2 separate regions of the Homo sapiens genome follow, and region 1 is linked to region 2. The links come from fine-mapping of genetic effects on gene expression. A gene starts in region 2. The other region holds a variant in brackets. All regions are shown on one strand. Distances are from middle to middle.

Region 1 (4,378 bases), 100 kb after region 2:
TGCCCGGAAACTGACCGTCCACCTGCGCCCTCCTGCCTCCTGTGACCTCGAGATCTCTCTTCGGGGGGTCAAGCTGAGTCTGAGCGGAGGAGGGCCCGAGGTGGGAGTGTGGGGGACTGGGGACCGGGGACTGGGGGATAGGGTTAGGCCACGGAGTCCGACGGGGCCAGGCTGGCAGGGGTGTCCAGTAGGTGGGAGGCAGGGGTGGCGCCAGGCCTCCTTTGACACAGGGACTTCTGCCCACCTCTGCTCTAGTTCCAGCGCTGCAGCCATTTCTTCCAGATGAAGAACATCTCCTTCTGCGGCTGCCATCCCCGCAACAGCTGGTGAGAGTCTGACCGTCCCCGAGTCCCCCAACCGCCCCCACAAACCCTGAGAGTCCAACCGCCCCCTGAGTCCCCACAGACCCTGAGGGCTGCCCGTGCCCAGCCCTGAGAGCTCCACCTGCACCCACTTAGCTCTGTGAGCTGAGCCTGCAGTGGCGCCTGCTCTGAGCTGGACTCAGGAGGCGTGGGTCAGACAGGCTTGCATCCAGTCTGGGTGGAGAGAGGCACACGGGCGAAGGATGTGAGAAGCCTGTGTGGGTGCAGAGGACGCCTGAGTGGGCCTGGGGCTCAGGATGGCCAGCCTGGAAACACAGCAGGTGACAGCGGTGGGGAAGTGGATCTTCCTGGTGGGGTCTAGCTGAGCCAAGGGTGTGGGATGCACTGGTCGGGGGCTATATAGGCTCTGGGGCCCGCGTGTAAGGGGAGCAGCTAGAAATGCCGGGGAAGACCTGGACCCTTTTGATTATGCCAAGGAGCTGTACTTAATCTTGCTGGTAATGAGGCCATAGAAGGCTCCTAATGGAAGGAGGTGACACAGGGGACCTGGGGGCTGCTGAGGTTATACAGGTGCTATGTCCTGAGACCAAGTGTGCAGATGCAAGAGGCACTGAAGAGGCAGTACAGGCAGGACCTAGGTTGACCGGCTGTAGAGGGTGACCTGGAAGAGACCAGGGTGACGTCTCCCTGGGGGATGGTTGTACTGCAGCCCACACACCGAGAGGGGATGCGGGATCAATCACAAACGGTGAGACTGAAGTGGCCGTTGGTCCCATGGGTCTGGAGTTTAGGAGGGAGACCTGGAGGGAAGATACCAGGTCAGAGCAGGTAGATCACTGAGACGAGAGGGGAATGGCCAGGCAGGGTGAGGGGAGGAGGGGAGGAGGAGGTGCTGGCATAGGAGCAGCAGGCCAAGGGGGGCTGCCAGCTTCCCTCCAGGCACAGGCCCCTGCCCTCTGTGTCCCAGCACCCTAGAGGAAGGAGATCTGGGAGGAACCAGAGAGGCAGAGCCAGCCAGAGGCTGGAAAGGACTTGCGGGGAGTTGGAGGAAGCAGGCTCACAGACAGGCAAGACACAGCAGGGCACGGTGCTGCCAGGACTGAGGCGTGGGACAGACGTCAGTGCATCTTGGGGGCCTTGTGGACTCTCCCTGTGGTCGAGAGTGAGGGTGCTGCCTGCTGGAAGGTGCGGAGCCCTTTTGTGTTGTCCCCGCCGAGTGCAGAGATGGTCTGATGGGATCCATGCGGAAACGCTGCTCAGTGGGGTGGAGAGGTGGGACAGCGGGCAGCGATGCAGACCAGACTGCGGGGCCAGCTCTGGGGTGGAGAGGTGGGACAGCGGGCAGGGGCGCAGACCAGACAGCGGGGCCAGCTCTGGGGTGGAAAGGTGGGACAGTGGGCAGGGGCGCAGACCAGACAGTGGGGCCAGCTCTGGGGTCACCAGGACAGCGAACGGGGCGCAGACCAGACAGCAGGGACAGCTCTGGGGTGGAGAGGTGGGACAGCGGGCAGGGGCGCAGACCAGACAGCGGGGCCAGCTCTGGGGTGGAGAGGTGGGACAGTGGGCAGGGGCGCAGACCAGACAGTGGGGCCAGCTCTGGGGTCACCGGGACAGCGAACGGGGCGCAGACCAGACAGCAGGGACAGCTCTGGGGTGGAGAGGTGGGACAGCGGGCAGGGGCGCAGACCAGACAGCAGGGACAGCTCTGGGGTGGAGAGGTGGGACAGTGGGCACGGGCGCAGACCAGACAGTGGGGCCAGCTCTGGGGTCACCGGGACAGCGGACGGGGCGCAGACCAGACGGTGGGGCCAGCTCTGGGGTCACTGGGACAGCGGACGGGGCGCAGACCAGACAGTGGGGACAGCTCTGGGGTCACTGGGACAGCGGACGCTGCCAGGAGAGGAAGAATGACCCAAATTTCTCATCAGAAGGAAACTGGGTGAAGCTCAGGTCTCAGGCTGGACAGGGCCCCAGCTAGAATTTCGTGAGAGGAAGGTGGTCAGTCGAGTTTGGGGTTTGGAGTCAAGATGTGGCAGGGGTGTGGGAGGAGGTGGAGGAGCTGCTGCCCTGGCCCAGACCTTCCTAATATTTGTCACCCCAGACCCCCCGTCCCCGGTCCCTTGCCACGAGGAGGCACGGACGAAACCGTGTGAGGTGAACGATGAACTCGTTTCTTCATGGCGGTGGTGGTAGGTCAGGAGAGCGTGGGGTGTGCTGTGTTGGGATCTGGCATTAGGATGTCTGGTGTTGGGATCACAGACTGTAGCCTTTTCTCCCAGGGCTGCCCATCCTGCCTGTGTGTCCTGGGCAAGCTCCTGAACCTCTGTGCCTAGCTCTCCATCAGGGCCCTACCTCAGAGGGCTGTTGTGAGG[C/T]TTCTGTGAGTTAATGGAAAGGGCAGAGGATGGTGCCTGAGTAATGCAGGAAGCCAGATCTGTGGGTCGGCGCTTATTACCATCATGACTTGAACGCGGCATTTGAGGCGGGCCCTGTGCTCTGTCTGTGGACAGCGTGCACACACTGTCCTGGCAAGCAGACCATCATGTGGCTTCCCATTTGGTGGAATCGCAAAGCCCCGAAGCCATGGGGGAATGGACGGGTCGGCCAGTTTCAGGGGTGGGGGTGGGGCAGCGTCCTGCTGCAGAACTCTGCCTGCCTCTCCCTCTGGACGACGATTTTTGATTTTTGCTAATGTCTGGGTGGAGGAGCTGGGCAGTGACTCCATGAGCGAGGCCCCGCAAGGAGCTGCTTTCCAGTGGGAGCGAGGGGTAGACCGGAAGAGGGTTTTACAGACCAGGGGTAACGTCCAGCCCCACCTCGGAGCTGGGCAAGGGGCTGTCAGTCTGCTAGGCCCGCAGGAGGAGGCCTGAGTTGGCAGGAGATATGGTCTCCAGTAGCCAGGCAGAGGCCTTGCTCTGTGGTCCTGGGGCAGGCCCTGAATAGGGCCACAGAGGGTAGCAGCACCGGCTCAGAGAAGGGAGAGTGGACGCCCCTGGTCATCATGGAATTAACTCAGAGCGTGAACTCTTGGTAGGTGCCCAGCCCTGTGCTTGGGCTGAAACCAAAAAAAGACAACTTCAGATCTTGAAATTGTGCGACCCCCACACTCCTGTCCCTTACCCTCTCCCCAAGCCCTTTGTTCCTGCCTCTTCTCTCTACATCATTTGTGGGGTGGCCAAGGCTGGGCCAGGGCTCTGACGTGCCCTCCACACTGACTTGCCCGCAGCTATTTCGGCTTCATCACCAAACACCCCCTGCTGAGCCGCTTCGCCTGCCACGTCTTTGTCTCCCAGGAGTCCATGAGGCCGGTGGCGCAGAGTGTGGGGTGAGTGGGGCCCCAGGGTGTGGGTGCAGAATGGGTGCAGGGTTACGGAGGTGGGGAGCGGAGGTGAGCAGGTGGGGGCAGGAGCCTGGCAGGGGAGGTCTGGGGAAGGAGAACCAGATGTGCTGTGTAGAGAGGGCAGTGGTGGGTGACAGTTTGGGGTGCTGGGCATGGGGTGGGAACAGGCACAGACACATGGCCCAGGCACTCTGGCAGGGGTAGAATTGCTGGGCCAGGAGAGCTGAGGGTCACACTTGGGGGTGACATGGCCATGCCTGGGTGGGGGGTTATGGATGGCTGCAGAGGGAGGAAGGAGGGAGAGCTCAGAGGCTCTGTGGAAGGCAGTTTGGGGGTTGAGGACCGGCCCTGAGTGGCTGGTGGAGGACCGTCTTTCCCCAGCCGCGCCTTCCTGGAGTACTACCAAGAGCACCTGGCGTACGCCTGCCCCACGGAGGACATCTACCTGGAGTAGCCTGCCCACCGCTCTGTCTCCTGGCCGTCTGCTCCAGGCGCAGCTGGGGCTGAGGATGTCTCAAGAGGCCACCATGGCTTTGGCAAGGACTGGATTGGGGGGACATGGGACCTTACGCTTGTGGGGGTCTGCGGGCTGGGAACTCTCGTCCTCGGTCCCCAGGGCGCAGCTGTTGGGGCTGCGGGGGAGTGGAGCCCCCGTGCCCCTGCTTTTCCTCAGATCCGTTCTTTCTCTGTGTTGTCCTCCTCCTTCCCTTCCCAGTCT
Region 2 (4,378 bases):
TCCTTGCGGTGGGAGGCTGGCCTCAGCGGGGCCACCAGCACGGCCAGGAAGCCAGTCTCTAGCAGCAGGGAGTCCCTATGGGGAGAGCAAATAGCACCAAGAGCCCCTCCCCACACAGCTGCTTCCCTCGGAAAGTCCTCCCAGGAAGGGCAGAGCCCTCCCCCACCCCCTACCCAGCCTCCCACAGCCCCAGGCCCAGCCGTCACTCACCACTGGAAATAAAGGAACACCTGGCCCACCTGCGGAGAGAGGGGCTGTCAGGGAGCGGGTGTGTCTGTGGACTCAGGTAAGGTAGAGGCAGGGGTGGGTGGTGGGGGTTGGAGATAGAGTGAGCTGGTCACAGGTCCCACTTGCCTGGCAGGCTGACAGGTAGGCGGCCCAAAGCAGCAAGTAGATGACAGGGTGGCGCAGTGGGCTCAGCAGCAGGGCTCCCAGGGCCACTAGTGCACCCAGCAGGCTCAGCAGCTCCAGGCCCTGGGCCGTGTCCAGCCCCAGTCTCGGCGCTTCCCACAGCAGCGTCGGGGTCTCCCACAGCTGCTGCCAGCGCCCCTTGCCCTGAGGCCGCAGCGTCCTCCTTGCAGGTAGGATGCCCTCGGGGCCATACAGGCCTGTGGGAGGGCATGTCATGGCCAGGCCCTGGACAGCCCTTGCAGACTAGACTACCTCTGAGTCAGGGCCTGCAGATCCCCCAGCCTAGGTCAGAGCATGCGGATACCTCCATCCCTAGGTCAGAGTCTGCAGTCCCTCCAGAGCCCGTCCCCCAGGTCGGGACCTGTCAAAACCCCGTCCCAGGGCTAGAGGCCTGCTCAACTACCTGAGTCAGGGCCTCCCACCCAGCAGAGCCCACTGCCCTCTTCCAGGTCTCAGCCCGATCTCCTACCTGTCCCACCAGGTCTGGGAGGAAGCCTCTCTCCCACCTCTCTCAGAGTTCTGTCCCCCACCCCAGGTCAGAGTCCAGAGCCTTACGGGAAATGGATCACCGCACACCTTCCTACCCCCACAGCGGCCTGCAGGACACGAACCGCCGCCCCCTACCCCACGCCAAGGCCTGGCCCTCACTCCCAACCCCGGACTGCGTGAGTGCCGGGCACAGAGAAAAGAGGACATAGGGTCCCGCGCCGAGGCTGGGGGTGTCCCACCCTGGGTGCCTTCACCTGGGATTTGCGTGTAGAGGGAAGCGAAAGCAAACATGAAGACGGCCGCCACGCCCTGGAGGAAGAGCTGCCGCGGGAGCCGGGAGCCCGCCATGTCCGCTACGCGGCCCGCTAGAGCAGGGCCCGCCCTCCGCGTCCGCCCGCCCGCGGCAGCCCCAGGCCCCGCCTCCTCACCGCCCCGCCCGCCCAATCCGTGGCAGCCCCAAGCCCCGCCTCCTCGGCCCGCCCGCCCGCCCGCGGCAGTCCCAGGCCCCGCCTCCTCACCGCCCCGCCCGCCCAACCCGTGGCAGCCCCAAGCCCCGCCTCCTCGGCCCGTCCGCCCGCCCGCGGCTGCCCCAGGCCCCGCCTCCTCACCGCCCCGCCCCCCCAACCCGTGGCAGCCCCCAAGCCCCGCCTCCTCGGCCCGCTCGCCCGCGGCAGCTCCAGGCCCCGCCCCACCCCGCCCCGCCCGACCCACGGCGGCCCCAAAAGCCCTCCCGTCCAAACTGGTGGCAGCCCAAAGCTCCGCCCACCCCCCCCTCCCGGAGGCTTCGACCCCGCCCCGCGACTCTTCCGGTGAGCTCCCGCTGCGCGGCGCCGGGGTTCGCCTCTCTGGCTTTTGCCCACGTTACGTCATAGACATGCGCGCGACGCCGCGCCTACGCATTTTCCTGGGCGGGAACAGCAAAATGGCGCCAGAACTAGTGGCGGGCTGAGGACGCCGTACCCCTCGGAAGGCAGCCCTGCGGTCCCTTTGCCGCCCGTTCCCTCCCGGACATGGAGGACGTGGAGGCGCGCTTCGCCCACCTCTTGCAGCCCATCCGCGACCTCACCAAGAACTGGGAGGTGGACGTGGCGGCCCAGCTGGGCGAGTATCTGGAGGAGGTAAGGGCGGCGGGGGAGTGACGCGGGGTGGGCCGGCGGGTGGGGCTGCGGGGCGGGGGCTCCGGGCCCGGGGCTGTGGGCGCCCCACCGTCTCCACGCCTATGGCTATCTGGCGCTCTGGCCGCGCAGGTCCTCGGGCTCCCTGCTTCTTTTCAAACTCCATCTCTGCCTCCCCAAATCATCCCTTGTTGGATTAGCGTGGACCTGTCATTGCAGGTTTCTACCCGTCAGCGAGCCGTGAATGATTGAGTGGGTGGTGACCAGCCGTTTCTCTAACGTAGTGGAATAGACTAGAAAGCATTATTGCTTTTATTGCAGTTATTGCGAGCATGCTTGTGTGTTTGAGAGGTCTGGATCACGATGTCAGAGGAATTTTTTATCTTGGATTTTCAAACCAATTTCAAGCTATTGCCATGCTCTATCCTGTTAGCGATTAGTGTTTCTTCCATGTTTGACAGCCCTGTCTAGACCTGTGTTAAGCTGTCTGCTCCATATTTGCGCTTCATTTTTACTCCTCAGCCCAGCTCAGTCTGGCGTCCACGACACTTAAATGTTTCTTGTCTTGATCAGCAGTGATCTCCATTCTACCAAATCCAAGGGACATAAGTCAGCATTTGTTGGACTGGCCACTCCTTTCTTTTTGAAACATGGTGGTAGGATTTTTTTTCCCTATTTCATTGCCTGATTTTTCTTTTCTATCCAGTCTCTAAGTGTTGAGTTCCTCAGGATGGGGCCTAGGTCATCTTCTGATGCATTTACCCTGAAGTGTCATTTATTTCTATGATTTTAAATATTGCCTGTATTAGGACAACTACCAGATCTGCAGCTCCATCCTAGATCTTTCCTCCAAATCTACTTTACATATCCAGCTGCTCTCTTGACATCTAGTGGGTGTCACGCAAACATCTCATTTAACATATTTAAAGTGGAACTCTTCATTTTTCTGCTTAAACCCCAGCTTTTCCCATCTCGGAAAATGACACCGCTGTTCAACCAAAAGCAAAAGCTAAATGTGGCTATAGTGAAGCCCCATGCTTAACACTCAGTTCATCCATGAATTCCATCAGTTATACCACCGGAATATCACTTGAATTCATCTGTTGTCCATTTTATTTGGTCTAGGCCACCATTGTCTCTGGCCTGGATTTGTGTAAAACCTTCCTATTTGGGTTCCCTTATCCCTGTTTTTGTCCCGTCCAATTCGTGCTCCAACCAGCAGCAAGTGTGACTCTTAAAAATTAAAATCTGGCCACAGCACTGTTTTCTGCCTAAAATCAACCCCTCAGTGGCTTTCCATTATGCCCAGAATAAAACCCAAATTTCCTTCTCTGAACCTGGCTCTGCTCTCCATTTTAGCCTCATTTTGGGCTGTTTTGTATCTTGTTCTTTTGAACCAGTCAACCTATGGCCCCTCCAAGCTTTTTCTTGGTGGAAGATCTTCATGCTTTCTGCCCCCACTTGGGAATCTTCTTTTTTGTTTTTATTTATTTATTTATATATTTTGAGACGGAGTCTCACTCTGAGACGGAAGTGCAGTGGCGCGATCTGAGCTCACTGCAAGCTCCGCCTCCTGGGTTCACATCATTCTGCCTCAGCCTCTGCAGTAGCTGGGACTACAGGCGCCCGCCTCCACGCCCAACTAATTTTTTTGTATTTTAGTAGAGACAGGGTTTCACCGTGTTAGCCAGGATGGTCTCGATCTCCTGACCTCGTGATCCGCCTGCCTTGGCCTCCCAAAGTGCTGGGATTACAGGCGTGAGCCACCGCGCCCGGCCTCTTTTTTGTTTTTAAATAAAGAGGGACTTCATATGGCAAGGAAAAGGAGAAAAAAAAAATCAGAGAGGAGGATCTTACTGTGTTGCCCAGGCTGGTCTCAAACTGCTGTGCTCAAGCAGTCCTCCTGCCTCAGCTTCTCAGGTAGCTGGGACTATAGCTGTGCACCACCACACCTGGCTGGGAATATTCTTTCAATGACTGAGTTTGTTTTCTTTTCTTTTTTTGAGATGGAGTCTTGCTCTGTTGCCCGGGCTGGAGTACAATGGCAGAATCTTGGCTCACTGCAACCTCCGACTCCCAGGTTCAAGCAATTCTCCTGCCTTGGCCTCCCGAGTAGCTGGGATTACAGGCATGCACCACCACGTCCAGTTAATTTTTGTATTTTTAGTAGAGATGGGTTTCGCCACATTGGCCAGGCTGGTCTCAAACTCCTGACCTCAGGTGATCCAGCCAGCTCTGCCTCTTTCCAAAGTGCTGGGATTACAGACGTGAGCCACCACGCCTGGCTGACTGAGTCCTTTTCATTCTTAAGGTCTTAGTGTAAATGTCAGCTGACCACCCTATCTAAAATAGTCCTCTCCATC

Evidence for each region. PIP is the estimated chance that this variant, and not a neighbour inherited with it, causes the effect.
Region 1: its variant is fine-mapped to the expression of NCAPH2 in whole blood (TOPMed, PIP 0.97).

Annotation. Positions count from the first base shown.
Region 1 is chr22:50,606,666-50,611,043 of GRCh38, forward strand. It overlaps MAPK8IP2 (mitogen-activated protein kinase 8 interacting protein 2), which reads left to right. Exons shown (of 12, transcript NM_012324.6): 9 at 1-100; 10 at 256-326; 11 at 3,547-3,645; 12 at 4,042-4,378. The coding sequence ends at 4,114. Among named protein-coding and RNA genes, the nearest start is that of MAPK8IP2, 8.1 kb to the left of the region's middle. RefSeq lists an enhancer at 2,562-3,346. The variant C/T (reference allele first, on the strand shown) is at 2,696.
Region 2 is chr22:50,506,428-50,510,805 of GRCh38, forward strand. NCAPH2 (non-SMC condensin II complex subunit H2) reads left to right here and starts at 1,797. Exons shown (of 20, transcript NM_152299.4): 1 at 1,797-2,018. The coding sequence starts at 1,911. LMF2 (lipase maturation factor 2) reads right to left here and starts at 1,275. Exons shown (of 14, transcript NM_033200.3): 1 at 1,155-1,275; 2 at 355-608; 3 at 211-239; 4 at 1-75. The coding sequence starts at 1,248. RefSeq lists an enhancer at 1,006-1,055 and silencers at 1,276-1,375, 2,046-2,335.